Homo sapiens: one gene and its partners. The protein of the gene in region 3 interacts with the protein of the main gene of each other region in a biochemical or structural test. Each region holds a gene or a part of one and is shown on either strand. Other genes may lie near its edges.

What was found. The genes of interacting proteins can lie anywhere in the genome.
Region 1: the proteins of RPL23 (region 3) and NAP1L1 form a complex in vitro, tested with the Homo sapiens proteins (one study listed by BioGRID).
Region 2: the proteins of RPL23 (region 3) and GRWD1 form a complex in vitro, tested with the Homo sapiens proteins (one study listed by BioGRID).

What each region holds. Positions count from the first base shown.
Region 1 is NC_000012.12:76,036,056-76,039,690, forward strand, and holds the end of NAP1L1 (nucleosome assembly protein 1-like 1), read right to left. Parts: 3' UTR 530-3,635; downstream 1-529. UniProt on the Homo sapiens protein: Histone chaperone that plays a role in the nuclear import of H2A-H2B and nucleosome assembly.
Region 2 is NC_000019.10:48,448,978-48,456,011, reverse strand, and holds part of GRWD1 (glutamate-rich WD repeat-containing protein 1), read right to left. Parts: intron 5,700-7,034; coding exon 5,486-5,699; intron 5,347-5,485; coding exon 5,204-5,346; intron 4,979-5,203; coding exon 4,781-4,978; intron 3,305-4,780; coding exon 2,987-3,304; 3' UTR 1-2,986. UniProt on the Homo sapiens protein: Histone binding-protein that regulates chromatin dynamics and minichromosome maintenance (MCM) loading at replication origins, possibly by promoting chromatin openness.
Region 3 is NC_000017.11:38,850,700-38,858,452, forward strand, and holds the start of RPL23 (large ribosomal subunit protein uL14), read right to left. Parts: upstream 3,023-7,753; 5' UTR 3,012-3,022; coding exon 2,999-3,011; intron 2,407-2,998; coding exon 2,323-2,406; intron 2,297-2,322; exon of another isoform or gene 2,164-2,296; intron 2,034-2,163; coding exon 1,905-2,033; intron 960-1,904; exon of another isoform or gene 825-959; intron 1-824.

The DNA of each region.
Region 1 (3,635 bases), on a different chromosome or scaffold from region 3:
CTATTCAAGAGGGCAAGGACCATTGTTTCTGATGTGTCCCAATCACCTAGAAAAAGTCTTGATACCAAGTAGATGCTCAACATAGGTAGAAATCTTGAATTGAATTAGAAGTCCATACCCATCATAAAAAGAATATCAATTTTTTCAAATGCTTTTGACAGATTTTTCATGATGCATCCTACTTTTTAAAACTTGAGATGTAAGGACTTGAAATTTGCCCTACAAACATATCTCTGGTATACTTTTTAAATGGATAACTACATGCTAGGCCTCTCTGAATCTTAAATGCTTTTATAGTCAGACATCTAAAATAAATCCCACAAACCTTTTCCCAAGCAACATGCAATTTAATATCATGAGAGGTGTTTATATAAACTAGTATCCTACTGTTTTCTAGTAAGAGTATTTAGAAGCATGAGAAACACAGTAATGGAACTGAGTTGGTAAGTTTCTTACTTGGCAGTTACATAGTCAAACACTTGACTAAAAGTCCATTAATCAATACTGGCTTAAAGACATGTAACAGAACTTGGAAAGTTATTAAGTGTTTAATTCATAATGATTACAAAATTCTGATCTGTAAACCAATTTGCAATATACAGTAGAAACTCATGACAATGATCATTATTAAAGATTTGGATAGACCAAAGGTCAAACATCTTTCAAGAAAAAGTTAAAGCCCAGTAAATTATGAACATGTCACGTTACCCTCATCAGGGTATAAAAGATAACCAAGGCTGGGCGCGGTGGCTCACGCCTGTAATCCCAACACTTTGGGAGGCTGAGGCAGGCGGATTGCCTGAGGTCAGGAGCTCGACACAAGTCTGGCCAACATGGTGAAACCCCGTCTCTACTAAAAATACAAAAAAAAAAAAAACCCACAGCGCCTGTAATCCCAGCTACTCGGGAGGCTGAGGCAGGAGAATTGCTTGAGCCAGGGAGGTGAAGGTTACAGTGAGCCAAGATCACGCCACTGCACTCCAGCCTGGGCAACAGAGCGAGAATCTGTCTCAAAATAAATAATTAAATAAATAAACAAATAGTCTCACAGAGTGCAGTTTAGACTTCTTAGCCTTATTTCATCTTTGAAGTACTATTCAGAAGAAATATTCTAGATTCTAGTTTCCAAAAGTCCTTGAGTTGAAAACGTTAAGTATTAACACAGAACTATCCAGACTTCTTAGGTGGGTGTCCAGAGCTGCCTTCCTTTTCGCCTTAGTAGTTGATGAACTGATGCCTCCTAGTGACCAATCTGTGTAACAGCTTAAAGCAAGTGCTTTATAATGAGTGCTTAGCGCTTTTTTTTAACTGTAGTACAAACACAATTGTGGATCCAAGCACCGTCCATCAGCTGTCTCCGTCCTTTCTGTTCTGCCAGCAGCCTAATTCAGTTCTCTCATCTAAGTTCTTGGGTGGCCCAATCACCTGATCCATACTCATACACATGGCCTTCAGTTTTACTCTTAAAACATGACAGAAAACTTCTATTCGCCTCCAATTGTATACATTCCAATTCCTTACCCTTGCATGACAAGCCCTCCACAGAATGGGTCCTACTTATTTTGACTCGTTCCACTCAACCTTGAGCGAGTGCCAGTCATACATCTCCTTGTCCTCGCAGCCTCCAATTTACCTTCCCAAATCCTCTGTAAACCTTTCATTCTTCAAAGCCCTATTCAAATCCCAGATTTCCTCTGGCTGAGTTAATTCCTTCCTAATCACTTCAAACTCTGATGAGTAGTTATCCAATTTTCACGTCTACTTCACTAAATATCCAAGATCCTGGATGAGTGTTTTCGCCATTGTACCTAACGGAGAGCTGATTGACAGCACTTAAACTGAGGGGAAATGACTAATGTTTTGTCTGGAAATGTATTGATATTATTCAAAATGGGCAAGCAGGCTATCTTATTGAGTATTAACAAGTAACCAGGAAGTCTGATTATTTGTAAACTTGTTATGGTAATATTAGCTTTGAAGTGACAAACGAAAATATGGAACTGGATGAAATGGAGCAGAGAGGAAGGTAATCCAATGAAGGAGGCTGAGAGAACCAGTATTATGTTGTCACAAAACTGCAATCACTCAAAAGTGTTGATATTCTGGCTCTGGGTCTCTGGGGTGACAAGATACCCCAGTAACTAAGAGTGGAAGCAATCCTCTGTCCCCACTGAAGAGCCCAAGAACACCTACCACCTTTCCTAAGTATGCTTCTACTCTGAAACCCGGTAAATGCAACCCGTTGTTTGCAACTCAAATATGTAACTGACAGTCACTTGGGCAAATACCTCCATTTAAGGAACTAAATTCCAAGGATATTTCCCTCTTTTGCTGTCATTTTTCCATTGCCACAAAACACACAGCCTGAGGACATAGGCTGTTCAATTTGATCACTATTGATCTCTGTAAGAAAAAAAAATCCAGTAATGGGCAAATACCTTTCTTAGGTGATAGAGGACATATAGCAGTGAGTGTAGACAATTCCTCCCAAAAACATGAGAATAAAGAAGGTGGTAGTGGTGTTACTTTAGAAGAACAACTCAGGCTTCAGAGAGGGTAAGTTTCATTACAGACAAGGTAATCTAAGAGTAAAAGGGATAAAAGAATTCTGTGGGGTAGCCAGACTCAGAAAGGTGGAATAACACTTTTACAAGAAGATAAAACCCAGGAAATGTTTATGGCAAGCTTGTATGTTGCCACTAAACCTACCAGAAAAAGAAATCCCATTAGAACCGCCCCCATCACAATAACTACCTAAGTAAATCATTGTTGAGTAACAATGAGCACCCCTTAAACATGTCAGAAACCAGAAAGTTTTTGTTTCTAATGAGATTTCATTTACACTTTTAAGTCATTGTCTCAACCTAATTTGTGCATGCATGGTTCTGAGAAAGGTTATCATGCAAAATGAAATAAAAAGCCTTGGGCAAAGCAGGACTCCAATCATAATTAATCCTTTTGGGCCGTATTTAAAGAAAATTACTTTTCTTAGCCCTGTTCACTTATTTCTAAAATGTAGTTATTTGCTTTATGTTCCAGGATATCCTTGATCAAATAATCCTTTTCTAAATCAACTTATTTCGACATATGTGGCCAATGTGGCTGTCATCCTAACCTCCCTTGGCATTCACACCCAGCTCTATTTTATTTACTATCCTACTTTTAGCACTGTGAGCATAAACCATAGGTTCTTCTTTTTACAGGAGAGGTTGGATGCCAGTAGCCTTTAGCCTCCTTCAGCCCATCCTGTACCTTGAACCTGGACATGATGTATAGAGCCCCAGCAACCACTTGATAATAAACCAACTTGCCAAAGACAAAAAGTAGAATGAAAGTCTGCCTGAGAACCATGAAGCTCCCATATCAGTCCCAGAGTCTGTCTAAGCCTAAGAGAAAAACCTATATAAGCCACATTGTATTGGGGCTGTGTTATACAACATTATAATAAATACAAACTCTTCAGGGCAGGGGAGAGAAAAAGGAAAGATTATCTGAATATTGTTTAAAATGAAATCTAGATTAACTCTGGTCTCTAAAATATTTCATCTCTGAAAGCTCTAGCCTAAAGAACATGCTTATTTAACCACTAGTTGTGTGACAGAAATATCTACAAGGCAGTGCAAAGTGTAGGGCCA
Region 2 (7,034 bases), on a different chromosome or scaffold from region 3:
CACCCAGGCCTCCTGGGAGCCACGGCCCGAGTGACAAACCACAGTCTTCTCAAGAGCACTCTGGTTTCAAACACACCTGGTATGTACGAGGCCTCGTGATGAGCTCCCGACATGCCCACAGCCCCCACTGGACTCTCAGACCCCACTGCTCACCTTGGCCGCTCAGGATGCCGGGAGGTGAAGATCATCACCCCCTTTCACAGTTGGGGAACAGGCTCAGGGAACGCCATGAGCTGGCCAGGCCCCCGCAGTGCCAGGGGGAATGCTGGTTGGGTCCTAAGCCTTTCTTTCCTTCCCAGAGTTCTGCCCTCGAAATCCTCCAGTCCCACCTCAGCCCCGTGAGGCAGACCCGTTGTCTACTTCCCAAAGCCAACGGGAACCTTCACCAGGGGGCCATCTGCGGCCAACATGGCCCAGCTCCCAGGCTGGCTGCGACTCAGGCTCAGGGCACCCCCCTCCCCTAGCAAAAGCAGGGCGGGAGGGAAAGGGATCCTCCACCTGACCTGCGAGAGCAGCTTAATGTTTCCATATAAAGGAGATACAGGGCTTAAGGTGCTTCAACTTCGTGTCAAAGTCACTGTCTAATCTGAGGCCAAGAAGCCCCGCCCCCAGGCCCCACCCTCACCCTCCCAAATCAACACTCTCACTCTTCCGAAACCAGGGGTGTTCCCCACCACTCCCCACCTACTGGTGGGGGCTGGACAGCAGGTTGGAAAGCAGAGACTACAGAAAGACAAAGAGATGCAGAGATAGGCAGGAGGAGGGGTGTTGAGAGGGTGCCCCAAGAAAAAGTACAGGGACCAAGCAGGACAGGGACCCTGAGAGAGAGGGGGACAGAGACCCAGAGAGGGCAGCAGGAAAGGGACATTGATCCAGAGAGAAAGGGACAGAGACCTTGAGAGAGGACAGAGACCCAGAGAGAGGGGAACAGAGACCTTGAGAGGATAGAGACTCAGAGACAGAGGGGGACAGAGACCCAGAGAGAGGGGGGGACAGAGACCTAGATGGAGGGGGACAGAGAAGATAGAGGCGGACAGGGCAATTGGGAAAACGAAAAGGAGAAAAGAAATGTTTTAAGAAATGGCGACATGGGGAGATGAAATTGTGAAGACAGAGAGAGGCAGAGAGAGATGGGAGAGACAGAGATGGGGGAGAGAGACAGAGACAGAGACAGACAGACTGAGAGGGTTTCTCTGAAAGGATGGAAGCCAGTGAGAAAATGCATAAAATGGGGATGGGGTGAGAGTTGGAGGCACTGAACCTGGGGGTGGATTCTCCTGGCGCTGAGCCTGTCACTGATGGGAAGACAAGGCCTTCTTGAAGGGGACAAGCTGAGGACAGGGATGCTGGGGCAGGGGTGGATGGGGGCGACGCAGCAGAGCAGGAGGGGATGGCTCAGCGGTGCCTTGCATGGAGGCACGTACCTGTTGGGGCGGCCCACCCCCATGCCCTCCGCTGGGGGCTCCTCGGCTAGGGCTGAGGGGAAGCCTCTGTGGGTGCTGAGGGGCTGTAGTCTGTCCTTGGTCCCAGGGGCCGTGTGACGGGCACCCGACCTCGGAGTCCACAGATGGATCAGAGGCTGGATGGAGGGGGGCCGGGGGTGGGGCTAGCTCAGAGCCGCAGAGGGGGAGCCAGGGAGGCCAGCCAGGCAGAGCGGCTGGGCCACAGCCCAGGCAGGCTGGACAGGAGACAGCGGCGGAGGAGCGAGACAGCGACTAGGGGGCAGGGAGACTGGCAGTGGGGGACGGGAGACTCTGAAAGAGGGGGACACAGAGAAGAAAGAAAGAAACGTGATAAAGGGGAGATGGACGGAGGGAGAAATGGGGGGTCCAGAGTTCCCTGAGATGAAGCCTTCATAAGCTGGTGGGGGTCAGGGATGAGGCCCCTTTCACTAAGCCAGAGTGAGTTCCAGATGGAAGGACACTTAGAGAAGGCAGAACGCGGCGGCACCCAGTGGGCGGAAGGTTGGGTTGCACTGGACTCCCAGTGGCCTCCCCCAGCCTAGCGGCCTGGGGGCAGCTGGTGCCAAATTCCTCCCCACCCCCAAACTCCCCCCACACCCCGTTTCCTCATAGGGCTGTGGCCAAAGGACCAGAGTCTCAAATACACCTCAGGCCTCTTCCTGGTCCTTTATTGCTGCTCAGGAGCCCTGACCTTCCTCCCGACACAGCACCAGCCTCTAAAGTCAGGGAGGAGGGGAGAGGGTCGCATGTAGCCCCCACACGGAGAAATCCTGGCCAAACCCAGCTGGCAGGAAGACAACGGGCAGAAGCAAATTGTGTTGGAGGAACCCACACCTCCAATTTGGTGCAGCCACTGTATATCCCCCGAGTCCCCTGCTGGGAACCAGCAGCCAAAACTGGGTCCTGAGCCGGACGCGGTGGCTCACGCCTGTAATCCCAACCCAGCACTCTGGGAGGCCGGGGCGGACAGATCACTTGAGATCAAGAATTTGAGACCAGCCTGGCCAACATGGTGAAACCCCGTCTCTACTAAAAATACAAAAATTAACGGGGTGTGGTGGCACATGCCTGTAATCCCAGCTACCTGGGAGACTGAGCTGAGAGAATCACTTTAACCCAGGAGGCGGAGGTTGCAGTGAGCCAAGATCGTGCTACTGCACTCCAGCCTGGGCGACAGACCAAGACTCCGTCTCAAACAAACAAACAAAAAACTGGGTTCTGGGGACACAGGTCAAATGGGTCACAGCTGACAGGAAGGAATCCGACACACAGGCCACACCAGGCCACACAAGTCTCTGGGTGGGAGTGGTCTTACAGAGCCCTGGTTAAACCGAGTTCTTTGGTGAGAGGGGTCACTGGATCAGAGCCAGGCCTTCTAGAGAACAATACGTCAAACAGAATCCATCACGGCAGCCCACAGGCCGGCCAGTCTCAGTCAACAGACCTGAATGAACCCCTTCCAGGGGAGCCCAATTCGACTTCAGTTTCCAAGCAGGAAGCAAGATCAGAGCCAGTGGGACGCCTCAGACGCTGATGGTGCGGAAGATGGTGAAGCCTGACAGCGCCGTGCTGACCAGGAGCCCTGGGCACTGCGGGTGCCAGTGCAGCTCCTTCAGCTCGGTCTCGCCCTGGTGCACGAACAGCAGCTGCTGCGGGAGGTCGGCCAGTCCGGGGTCGGCCTCCACGTCGCCCGCCTCAGGGTCCCGCTCCACTGCCAGGTCCCACTGTGTGATCTGGTGGTCTGCACCCGAGGCTGCAAAGACCCCGCTGTCCTGGGGGTGCCACTCGACGGAGGTCACGGGGGCCACGTGCTGCTTGAAGGTGGCCACTGGGGAACCAGACTAGAGGGAGAGGATGGGAGGAACGGGCTCTGAATGCCTCAGCCTGACTCTGGGGAGGACCCAGGCAGAAGCCCCAACCCTTCTCCAGCCTCAGGGTTCAGCCAGGGCCCCACCCCTTAAGCCCTCACAAGCCCAGAGTCCAGGAAAGGGACACAGGGTAATTCTGGCTGCTAAGAAGGCTGACCAGCCCAGGGGTTGCTGGGAACTGTGATTCACCTGCAAAGAAGCCCCTCCCAGCTCAGGTAGCAAAACCCCCGCCCCTGCTCTTCCCTCTGCCTGCCTGTTTTCTTCCTTGTAAAAGGAGGGCATGGGCTGGGTGCGGTGGCTCACGACTGTAATCTCAGCACCTTGGGAGGCCAAGGCGGGTGGATCACCCGAGGTCAGGAGTTGGAGACCAGCCTGAACAACATGGTGAAACCCCATCTCTACTAAAAATACAAAATTAGCCGGGCTGGTGTCACATGCCTGTAATCCCAGTTACTCAGGAGGCTGAGGCAGGAGAATCGCTTGAACCCAGGAGCGGGAGGTTGCAGTGAGCCGAGATTGCGCCACTGCACTCCAGCCTGGGAAACAAGAGCAAAACTCCATCGCAAAAAAAAAGAAAAAAAAAAAAAAAAAGAAAAAAAGGAGGGCATGGCTCTCCCAGAGCTCTCCCAGCAGATTCTACAAAGGCCTCAAAGGAGGCAGAAACACAATCCCCGGAAGCCGACCCAAAGAAAGACTAAGAATGACAGCACTTTCACTACAGCAAAGGCCCCGCTCAATTGGCGTCTCTCTCATTAGGAGAGGCTGCTCTGAAGTTCCAATGGTCAACAAGCTGGGCCCTGTGTGACCTGGTGGGCCTGGGAGGCTGGAATCCGTCTCCAGCCTCCTCCCCAGGGCTGACGCTATAGAAACGATCAAACTGGAGGAGAAAAAGGATGACATCATGGCAGCCCGGGAAGGCAGAGCCACACAAAGCTGCGGCTTTGTCCAGAGGGATGCCGGACGCTGCAACTTCTCCTGCACAGGGACCCTCCCAGCTCCACAATGTCAACCTCTAGCTTGGCTGTCATGTCACAGCGGCTCCTGTCCTTTCTGTGCCTCAGTCTTCTCCTACAACGAGCAGGCTGGGCCCCGATTCTCAGTTGCATCTAGAAATCTACAACTCTCTGAAGCTCTCAGCACTGGCCGTACAGACACCTGTACTTCTGCCCACAGGCAGATGAGAGTCCTAGTCTCTGCTGCCCCAGCCCCTTCCATCTCTTGTCAGCTGTTCCCCTGGTAGAGTGAGTGACCCCAAGAGTGGAGACCCGCCACCCTTCCTCTTGCTGAGCCTCAGTTTCCTCCTCTGTACCCTGAAGAGGCAGGAGTCTAGTTCTAAGGGCTCTCCAGCTCTGGTTGTGTAAAACTATTCAAGGAGGAAAAATCCTACAAATCCCAGGGGCTGCTGGGAGCAAGCTTCTCTAGCCCCCAGGTGTCCGGCTGGGAAAATACCTTGAACTGCCGAAGGTCCCAGATCTTGAGGGCCCCATCATCCCCGCCACTGAGCAGGAAGGGCTCCCGGCGGCTCCAGCTGATGACATTGACGTCCCCATCATGGGCGGTGGCTGTGGTGAGCATGCAGGCCTTGCTGGGGGCTGCCCGGATGTCCCAGATGCGGATGGAGGCGTCAGCTGAGCAGGAGGCAAACACCTGGGGGAGGCGGAGTCTGAGTGGTCCCAATGCCCCCCAGCCCGCAGTGAAGCCCAAGCGCCAGCGGTGGGCTACTCTCTCTTTCACTGTTCCCCTTACTATGACTTGGCCTGGAAACTAAACCTCCGTCAGGCTCCCAGCCCTCTTTTCCCTCAGACCTAGGATTCTAGGTCCCTGGCCTAGAATCCATCAGAACTAAACGACCAGAACCCCACCCTCCCTCACCGTGTTCTCAGTCGGTGACCACTGCAGGTCCTCCACAGAGCGTGTGTGGCCCACGAATGGCCGCTGGTCCACGTGCCAGGAGCCGCCGTCCGTAGGTGTCCAGAGGTGGATGTTCTTTTGACAGTCACCGGTCAGCAGGCGACCTGGGGAAGGGAGTCAGGAAATGACCTCGCCCCACCTGGCCGCAGCTCGCTCCCCTCCTTGGAGTCTAAGCGCCCGGCCCCTTGTTGCAGACCCTGCTCCCCCGACCTCCCGGGACTCCTGAACACCCCAGGGACTCACCGGTCACCCGGGGGGACCAGTCAAGGGCAAAGCCCTCGCCCATGTGTCCAGCGAAGGAGAAGATGGGCTTCATTTGGGCCTGCTCATCCCGGAGGAAGGCTGCCAGGGCCTGGGGCTCCTCCACCACCTGCAGAAGCCGCCGCAGCGCAAACACCTCCACCTGGCCCTTCTCTGACCACACCCCAGCCACAGGCTCTTCACCCAGCCATGACACCTGCAGAAGAGCGGTGGGGGAAGGGTGATGTGAAGCGAGGGGAGAGGAGGATCAAGGCACTGACCCCACGCTCCCCATATCCCAGAGAACCAGAAGTGCGCTTCCTCAGATCTCCCAGGCCTGGGACTACAGCTCCTTGAAACCTCTGTGGGAAGAAAATCACAACCTGCAAAAACCAGCATGGTAACTGGGACAGCTCTCCACAGGGGGTGGGAGTGGGTGGGGGAGCTGAGGTGGGAGGATAGAGCCCCAGGATGCCTGGGAGTTGAGGCTGCAATTCCCACCAGCCCTTGGGAGGGTGTTCAGGCTCCTGGTCTCGGTAACCCTCTAAATGCTAGAAGGCCACAAGACTCAGTCCTCGGATCTCCTTGCCTCTGTGTTTGTTCACTAGGAGACCCAGTCCAGCCACGAGGTTTCCAATACCCCTAGCCCTGACCTCTCCCCTGGGCTCCAGACTCTTACTGCATTGACCGTTCAAACTTTTTTGTTTTTGAGACAGGGTCCCGCTCTGTTGCCCAGGACGGAGTGCAGTGATGCCATAATGGCTCACTGCAGCCTCAACCTCCTGGGCTCAAGTGATCCTCTCACCTCAGCCTCCCAAGTAGTTGGGACTATGGGTAAGCACCATCACATCTGGCTTTTAAAATTTTTTTGTAGAGACAGGGTCTCACTTTATTGCCCAGGCTGGTCTGGAACTCCTGGTCTCAAGCGATCCTTCTGCATCAGCTTTCCAAAGTGCTGGGATTACAGGCATCAGCCACTGTGCCAGCCTGACCATTCAAACTTGATACAACCAAAGCCAAGCTCCTAATTGCCACCTGCAACTGCTCTCTCTCCACCTCAGGCCCCAAAATTCAGAACTCATTCTTGGTCCTCATGCCCAGCACCTATGCTGACTACAGTAAAAATGCTCACTTCCAGGGCCAGGCGCGGTGGCTCGCACCTGTAATCCCAGCACTTTGGGAGGCCGAGGAGGGCAGACTGCCTGAGGTCAGGAGCGAGACCACCCTGGCCAACATGATGAAACCCCGCCTCTACTAAAAATGCAAAAATTAGTCGGGCGTGCTGGTGGGTGGCTGTAATCCCAGCTACTTAGGAGGCTGAGGCAGGAGAATCGCTTGAACCCAGGAGTCAGAGGTTGCAGTGAGCCGAGATCGCACCATTGCGCTCCGGCCTGGGCGACAAAAGCGAGACTCTGTCTCATCTAAAAAAAAAAGCTCACTTCCAACCCCCTTCTCATGATGTCTATTGCTGTCACACTACTACTGATGTCATCCTTCCCCTGAATACCGTAAGTCTCCCCACAGGATTCTTTCCTCCGACCCTTACCTCTCT
Region 3 (7,753 bases):
TGCCATGTTGGCAAGCCTGGCCTCCCAAAGTGCTGGGAGTATAGGGAGTAAAGGCATGAACCACGATCATCTATTCACATCTTAAAATCAAAGCTGCCAGTATTTTCTCACAAGTGTAAAACTCTCAGGACAACTATCCTTGCCTATGCCTTTTCCAACTTCACCTTACAGGTAGGTTATTAAGATCCCAGTATCACTGAATTGGGATGTAGAAATGGGACCTGGGACCCCCAACTCCTCCCAGTCCTGGCAATGAGCAGAGACCAAGCTATTCAGATTTACACTGGAAAACAGTTTGAATTCCTGGGCCCAAGCACCAGGCTTTGTTTTACTTTTAATGAACTGTTTTCTAGTGTCCTAAGTAACTTTTATACCCATCTGTACTAAAGTGAAAAAGACGCTTTTCCCAACTTTCAAAATGAAGTATCACTACACAGTGAAATATAATGCTTGTGAAGAACTATTGTAGAGTCAGACACACCTGGATTCACAATCTTCACTGATACTAGCATGGGGTCCTTACACAGAATTTTTATGACAGGAAGACTACACAAAAAATAGATAAGTCTAACCAAGTTAGTAATGGGACACACATGAGGTAGCCAATACTTACTGACTGACCCTCCTCTACTCATAAACCATTTAATCCTCACAAATTCTTCAAGTAGACCTGGTCCTTTTGCATATTTCTGTGCTTGTTATTTATTGATATTAAGTTCCAAGGGGAGGGGATGTATTCATTTAGCAGAAACAAGGACCAAAAAAGACATTAACAGAATTGGAAACTCACAACTAGTTTTAAAACTGAAGTGTTCGGAGCTCTGGTCTGTCCCACCACTGACTGAGACCAACAATCCACCCTCCTGCCATCTCATCTACAAAGTGAAGGCCATTTGCTCTGCTCTTCTCTGACAGCTCCCTGGGCCACCAATCAGACCCAGGAAGTGTTCTGAGAAGAGGAAAAAGCCCATGCAATTGCTGAATCACAATCACAGTGCTACCCAGCCCTCAAATGGATATTAATGGTGAACAAAAAACAATTTCTAACCCAAAGGCTAAAAATCTACTGGACAGCATCGTGGGGTGGATACAGGAATAGGAGTAACTGTAATACAGGGCTGACAAATCAACATCACATTTGTAAATCAAGGGATGGCCAGGAACTCTTTAGAAGAGCAAGACATCCCAGGGTAGAGACAGATTAGGCAGGCACAGGAAAAAAGTGCAAGCGCTGAAGTTAAAATGCACCAAACACCAGAAGTTCTAAAGCCAGACAGGACACAAGCTGCAAGTATTTTGAGGCCTCCCCCTTTAAATCATACACCTGACAGGAAAAATTTTGAGTGGGGAGCCTGAGATTAAGTAATGAGCAATTAGCCGGGTGTGGTGGTGCACACCTATGATCCCAGCTACTCGGGAGGCTGAGGCAGGACAATCTCTTGAGCCCGGGAGGTGGAGGTTGCAGTGAACAGATATGTGCCACTGCACTCCAGCCTGGGCAACAAGTGAGACTCCATCTCAAAAACAAATAATAAAATAAGCAACGGGCAGCTTGTTTTCGTTTTGTAATATATTTTTTTTTGAGAGCCCAGGAGGCGGAGGTTGCAGTGAGCCAAGATCGTGCCATTGCACTCCAGTATGGGCTGGGCGACAGAGAGAGACTCCATCTCAAAAAACAAAACAAAACAAAACAAAAACAACAACAAAAAAACAACTAAGGTATGGAAGTGACAAGATGATGGTCCCCCCTCCAACACAATATGAGCAAAAACTTAAGATACTTATCTCACACTGCCTCTCAATGGAAAACAAACTTGAGGCCTTGAAAACTGATCCATTTTCCAATAAAGGAAAGCGTCCCCCCACTACTCATCAGTATTAAGGTGGGCTCAGTGTTTACTCACCCTTTTTTCTGAGCTCTGGTTTGCCTTTCTTGACTGTGGCCATCACCATGTCACCCACACCAGCAGCGGGAAGTCTGTTCAGCCGTCCCTTGATCCCCTTCACGGAGATGATATACAGGTTTTTGGCTCCTACAAAAGAATGTAAATAAAAATAAAAAATGTTGAGGGCCATCAGGCCGTTCCATCAGTATAACATTTCCCAAACACTTCCAAAGCCCCTCCCTCCACTCACTGCCCAAGCAGTTAGTCCGCAAGAACGCCTTGTCACACCACCGATTGAAGCAAACAACACATGTTGCCACTTCACCCAAAAGCGATGTTTTCACTCTCCCCTTTCTTGACGGCTCAATAGGTCATTAGCCACAGGCCCATTGAGTGCTTTTAAAAGGGGGAGTATAGCAACGTGCAAAGACCTCACCTGTGTTGTCAGCACAATTGATTACAGCTCCTACCGGAAGACCCAAGGAAATCCGGAATTTCGCACCAGAGGACCCACCACGTCCTGTGGATATAAAGGGAAGGGAAACAGGATAAAGAGATCACAATCTAGACATGGTTCGGAGTTCCCCCTCATACTCAAGCTGTAATTCACCGCACATGCTTTGATAGACTGTACGCTATAGATTAGCTCGCTCGGATTTTACTTATGCCGTCCCCATGTGCCACCCGATTCTCACGGAAAGTAGCCTATTTCTTACTATTAACACTCTGACATCGAAATTAAGAAACCTAGACGACTCAACCCTTGCTCTAACTTTCGCAAAACGCAATTACTCCTGCAAGGCATAAAACCGCAGAGGTCGCGCAAACCAGGGCCTAATCCAGTCTAACTTCAACCCCATTACGATAGCCCTATTCGCGGAGCGATCTCGCGGTATCCAGACTACATTCACGTCGGGATCCTGCCATCTCAACTCTCCAGCACCCCACTGCCACTTTCGAGGGCCCTGGCAGTGCTCTCGCGGTGGCCTGGCTCTCTCTCTCCGGCCTGAAGGAGAGCAAAGCGCCCCAGCTGCCTAGGGCCACCGCTCCTGACGAATCCGCCAGCCACTGCACGACAGATGGTGGAGGATCCTCCAGAAACAAAACCTCACCTCGCTTCGACATCTTGAACGCCGGAAAAAAGAAAAAAGGAAGTCGATTCAAAGGACACTGGGATATGAACTTTAACGCCCCGCCCACCCTCCTCACGTGGCCGGAGCAAAAACCGGCCTCTTCCGCCTCTGGGCGCTGCCTTATTACGTAATAAGTTTACGACGTCGCTTTTAGCCCTCTCTGCGAAGTGGGAGTTGAGGTAGAAGCGCAAGAGATAGGAAGTATCTTCTCTACGAGCTTAAGAGTAGTTAGGGACATGGAAACAGTGATTTGTTAACTTGCTCACGACCTCTTTTGACCACTTAATAGTGCCAGGCACTTATCTGCACACTAGAGAATAGGAATTAAAACACGGTTTGTGCCGTGTGGGGGTTCCCCAAGGAACAAAGAAAGTGGGGGAGGGAGGGAGAACAAGCTCTAAACGGTTTCGTTGAATGTAATACAGTTGAGAAGTGCTGCAGATCATTCCATCTATGTGTTCTTGGTATCATACCATTCTGTATTTTACATATACAGTATTGCTCTATTTATTGACCCGTCCCCCCCAACACACACTCTTTTTTTCTTTTTTTGAGACCGAGTCTCACTCTGTCGCCCAGGCTGGAGTATAGTGGCGAGATCTCAGCTCACTGCAACCTCCGTCTTCCGGGTTCAAGCAATTCTCTGTCTCAGCCTCAGAGTACCTGAGACCACAGGCGCCCGCCACAACGCTGGGCTAATTTTTGTATTTTTAGTAGAGACGGGGTTTCGCCATGTTATTGGCCAGGCTGGTCTCGAACTTCTGATCTCAAGTGATCTGCCCGCCTTGGTCCCTCAAAGTGCTGGGATTACAGGCGTGAGCCCCCGCGCCAGGCCTAATTGCTCCTTTCACAGCTTCAGCCGCCCCTTATTCTCTGGGTTCTTTCCTTCCCACGATACATTAATTCACATACTTATTGAGCTCCTACTTTACAGCAGGTTCTGTCCAGGGCGTACAGCGGATTACATCAGAGAACAAAATAGATCAACATTCTTTTCCTTATGGAGCTTACATTCTGCTGGGGTGCAGGTGGAGGAGGATATTAGACACTAAACAAAAGATATAATAAGTAATTGCAGTATGTAGTATGTTAGATGGGGATATGTATTATAAAAATATAAATAGTATCGCTTCTCGGCCTTTTGGCCAAGATCAAGTGTAAAATATAAATAGTGGCCGGGCCTTGTGGCTCACGCTTGTAATCCCAGCACTTTGGGAGGCCGAGGCGGGTGGATCACGAGGTCAGGAGATCGAGACTAGCCTGGCCAACACAGGGAAACTCCGTCTCTACTAAAAATACAAAAATTAGCTGGGCGTGGTGGCGGGCGCCTGTAATCCCAGCTACTCCGGAGGCTGAGGCAGGAGAATCGCTTGAACCCAGAAGGCAGAGGCGGCAGTGAGCCGAGATCGCGCTACTGCACTCCAGCCTGGGCGACAGAGCTAGACTCCGTCTCAAAAATGTATATAGATAAATAGCTCTTTGAGGAAGACGCGGTCGTAGGTGTTGCGGATCGCTGATCCGCACGCTCCTGCTACTGACTCACCGCTGTTCGCCCTCGCCGAGGAACCAGTCGCTCAGGAAGCCGCGCAGCAGCCATGGCTTTTAAGGATACCGGAAAAACACCCAGGGAGGCGGAGGTGGCAATTCACGAATTCGAGTCACTCTAACGAGCCGCATCGTAAAATCCCTGGAGAAGGTGTGTGCTGACTTGATCAGAGGAGCAAAGGAAAATAATCTCAAAGTGAAAGGACCAGTTCGAATGCCTGCCAAGACTTTGAGAATCACTTCAAGAAAAACTTTGTGGTGAAGGTTCTAAGACATGGGATCATTTCCAGATGAGAATCCACAAGTGACTCATTGACTTGCACAGTCCTTCTGAGATTGTTAAGCAGATTACTTCCATCAGTATTGAGCCAGGAGTTGAGGTGGAAGTCACCATTGCAGATGCTTAAGTCAACTATTTTAATAAATTGATTACCAGTTTTTTTTTCTTTTTCTTTTCTTTCTTTTCTTTCTTTCTTTCTTTTTTTTTTTTGAGACGGAGTTTCGCTCTTGTTGCCCAGGCTGGAGTGCAGTGGCGCGATCTTGGCTCACCGCAACCTCCACGGCCGATATCTATCTATCTATCTCTATCTATCTCTCTCTCTCTCTCTATCTCTATAGAGATATATATCTATAGAGATAGATAGAGATATATCTATCTCTATGTATTTATCTATATTAAAAACAACTGGTAATCGGCCGGGCGCGCTGGCTCACGCCTGTAATCCCAGCACTTTGGGAGGCCAAGGCGGGCAGATCACCTGAGGTCAGGAGTTCGAGACCAACCTGGCCAAAATGGTGAAACCTCGTTTCTACAACAATACAAACATTAGCCAGGCGCAGTGGTTCACGCCTGTAATCCCAGCGCCTTGGGAGGCCGAGGCGGTCGGATCACCTGAGGTCGGGAGTTTGAGACCAGCCTGACGACCAACTTGGAGAAACCCCATCTCTACTAAAAATACAAAATTAGCTGGGCGTGGTGGCACATGCCTGTAATCCCAGCTACTCAGGAGGCTGAGGCAGGAGAATCTCTTGAAACCCGGGAGGTGGAGGTTTCAGTGAGCTGAGATTGCACCATTGCACTCCAGCCTGGGCAACAAGAGCGTTTGAAACTCTGTCTCAAAAAAAAAAAAACAAAACAAAACAAAAATGGGGCCAGGTGTGGTGGCTCATGCCTGTAATTCCATCACTTTGGGAGGCCAAGGTGGGTGTATTACTTGAGGTCAGGAGTCAGAGACCAGCTTGCCCTAAATAGCAAAACTCTGTCTCTACTAAAAATACAAAAATTAGCAAGGCATGGTGGCTCATGCCGGTAATTCTAGCACTTTGGGAGGCCGAGGCTGGTAGACTGCCTCAGCTCAGGAGCTGAAGACCCAGCCCAAGCAACATGGCGAAACCCTGTCTCTACTAAAAATACAAAAAATTAGCCAGGCGTGGTGCGTGCCTGCAGTCCCCAGCTACTCGGGAGGCTGAGGCACGAGAATCACTGGAACCCAGGAGGTGGAGGTTGCAGTGAGCCGAGATCGCGCCAGTGCACTCTAGCCTGGGTGACAGAGCAAGATTCCGTCTCAAAAAAAAAAAAAAAAAGATATTGACATGAAACCAGGCACAGTGGCTCACATCTATAATCCCGAAACAATTTGGGAGGTTGAAGCAGGAGGATCCCTTGAGCCCAGGAGTCTGAGACCTGCCTGGGCAACATAGGGAGAGTCCATCTCTACAAAACATTTAAAAATTAGCTGGTGGCGGCTGGGTACAGTGGCTCATGCCTGTAATCCCAGCACTTTGGGAGGCTGAGGCAGGCAGATCATCTGAGGTCAGAAATTTGAGACCAGCCTGCCCGTCATGGTGAAACCCCATCTCTACTAAAAATACAAAAATCAGCTGGGCATGGTGGTGGGCAACCTGTAATCCCAAGTACCCAGGAATCTGAGACAGGAGAATTGTTTGAAGCCGGGAGGCGGAGGTTGCAGTGAGCCCAGATTGCGCCACTGCACTCCAGCCTGAGCAACAGAGCGAGACTCTGTCTTAAAATAAAATAAAATAAAATAAGCTGGTGGCATGGGAATCTGAGGCAGGAGAATCACTTAAACCCAGGAATTGGGGACTGCAGTGAGCCGTGATTGCACCACTGCACTCCAACCTGGGCTACAGAGAGAAACCCTTTGTCATTTTCCAATAAAAAGCCCTAAGGCAGGGGTGTGACTGAACCGAATGAGCACCAGCAAGGAAGCCAGATGTGACTGGACAGGACGAGTAAAGAGCAAAGTAGTAAGAAATGCAGTCAGAAGTAATGGAACGGTGGCTCACACCTGTAATCCCAGCACTTTAGGAGGCCAAGGCAGGTGATAACCTGAGGTCAGGAGTTCAAGACCAGCCTGGCCAACATGGTGAAACCCTGTCTCTACAAAAATACAAAAATTAACCATGCATGATGGCAGGTGCCTGTAATCCCAGCTACTTGGTGGGTTGAGGTGGGAGAATCATGTGAACCTGGGAGGCAGAGGTTGCAGTGAGCCGAGATCACACCATTGCACTCCAGCCTAGGTGACAGAGCGAGAGTTCTGTCTCAAAAAAAGGAAGTCATGGAATGAAACCACTGTGGACTTTGGCATTGGCTGAGTGAAATGAGGAAACATTCTTTGATTTTAAGCAGAGGAGGGACATGATTTGACTAATGTGTCAGAAGGATCACTGTGGTTGAGTTGTTGAGACTACACTGTGGGAGAGGACACAGGGATAGAAGTAAGAAGATCCATTAGGAAGCTATTGCAGTAACCCAGGAGAGAAATGATGGTGGTTTGGACTAGAATGGTAGTAGTGGATGTAATGTAGTCAGATTCTGGATGTGTTTTGGAGGTAGAGCCAATAAAATGTGGGGTATGAAAGATAGGAATCAAAATGTCTCCAAGTCTTTAGGCCTGAGCAATTGGAAGATATCATTGCCGTCAACCAAGATGGAGAAGGCTATGGTTATAGGAGGAATAGTGTTCCTGGTTGGTACTACCACCAGTGTCTCAACCAAAAAACAGGGACACAATTAATTCTCTTCTCCCAGGCTCCTAGAAGTAGTCACCAAGGTCTATCAACTTGACTCTGTTTCCTAAATTTTTCTGCCCATGCCTTCCACGTTCTGCCTTTGTTTCAAAGCTATTGCATCGGCCTCTATATGGTCAGACCATAATTTCCCAC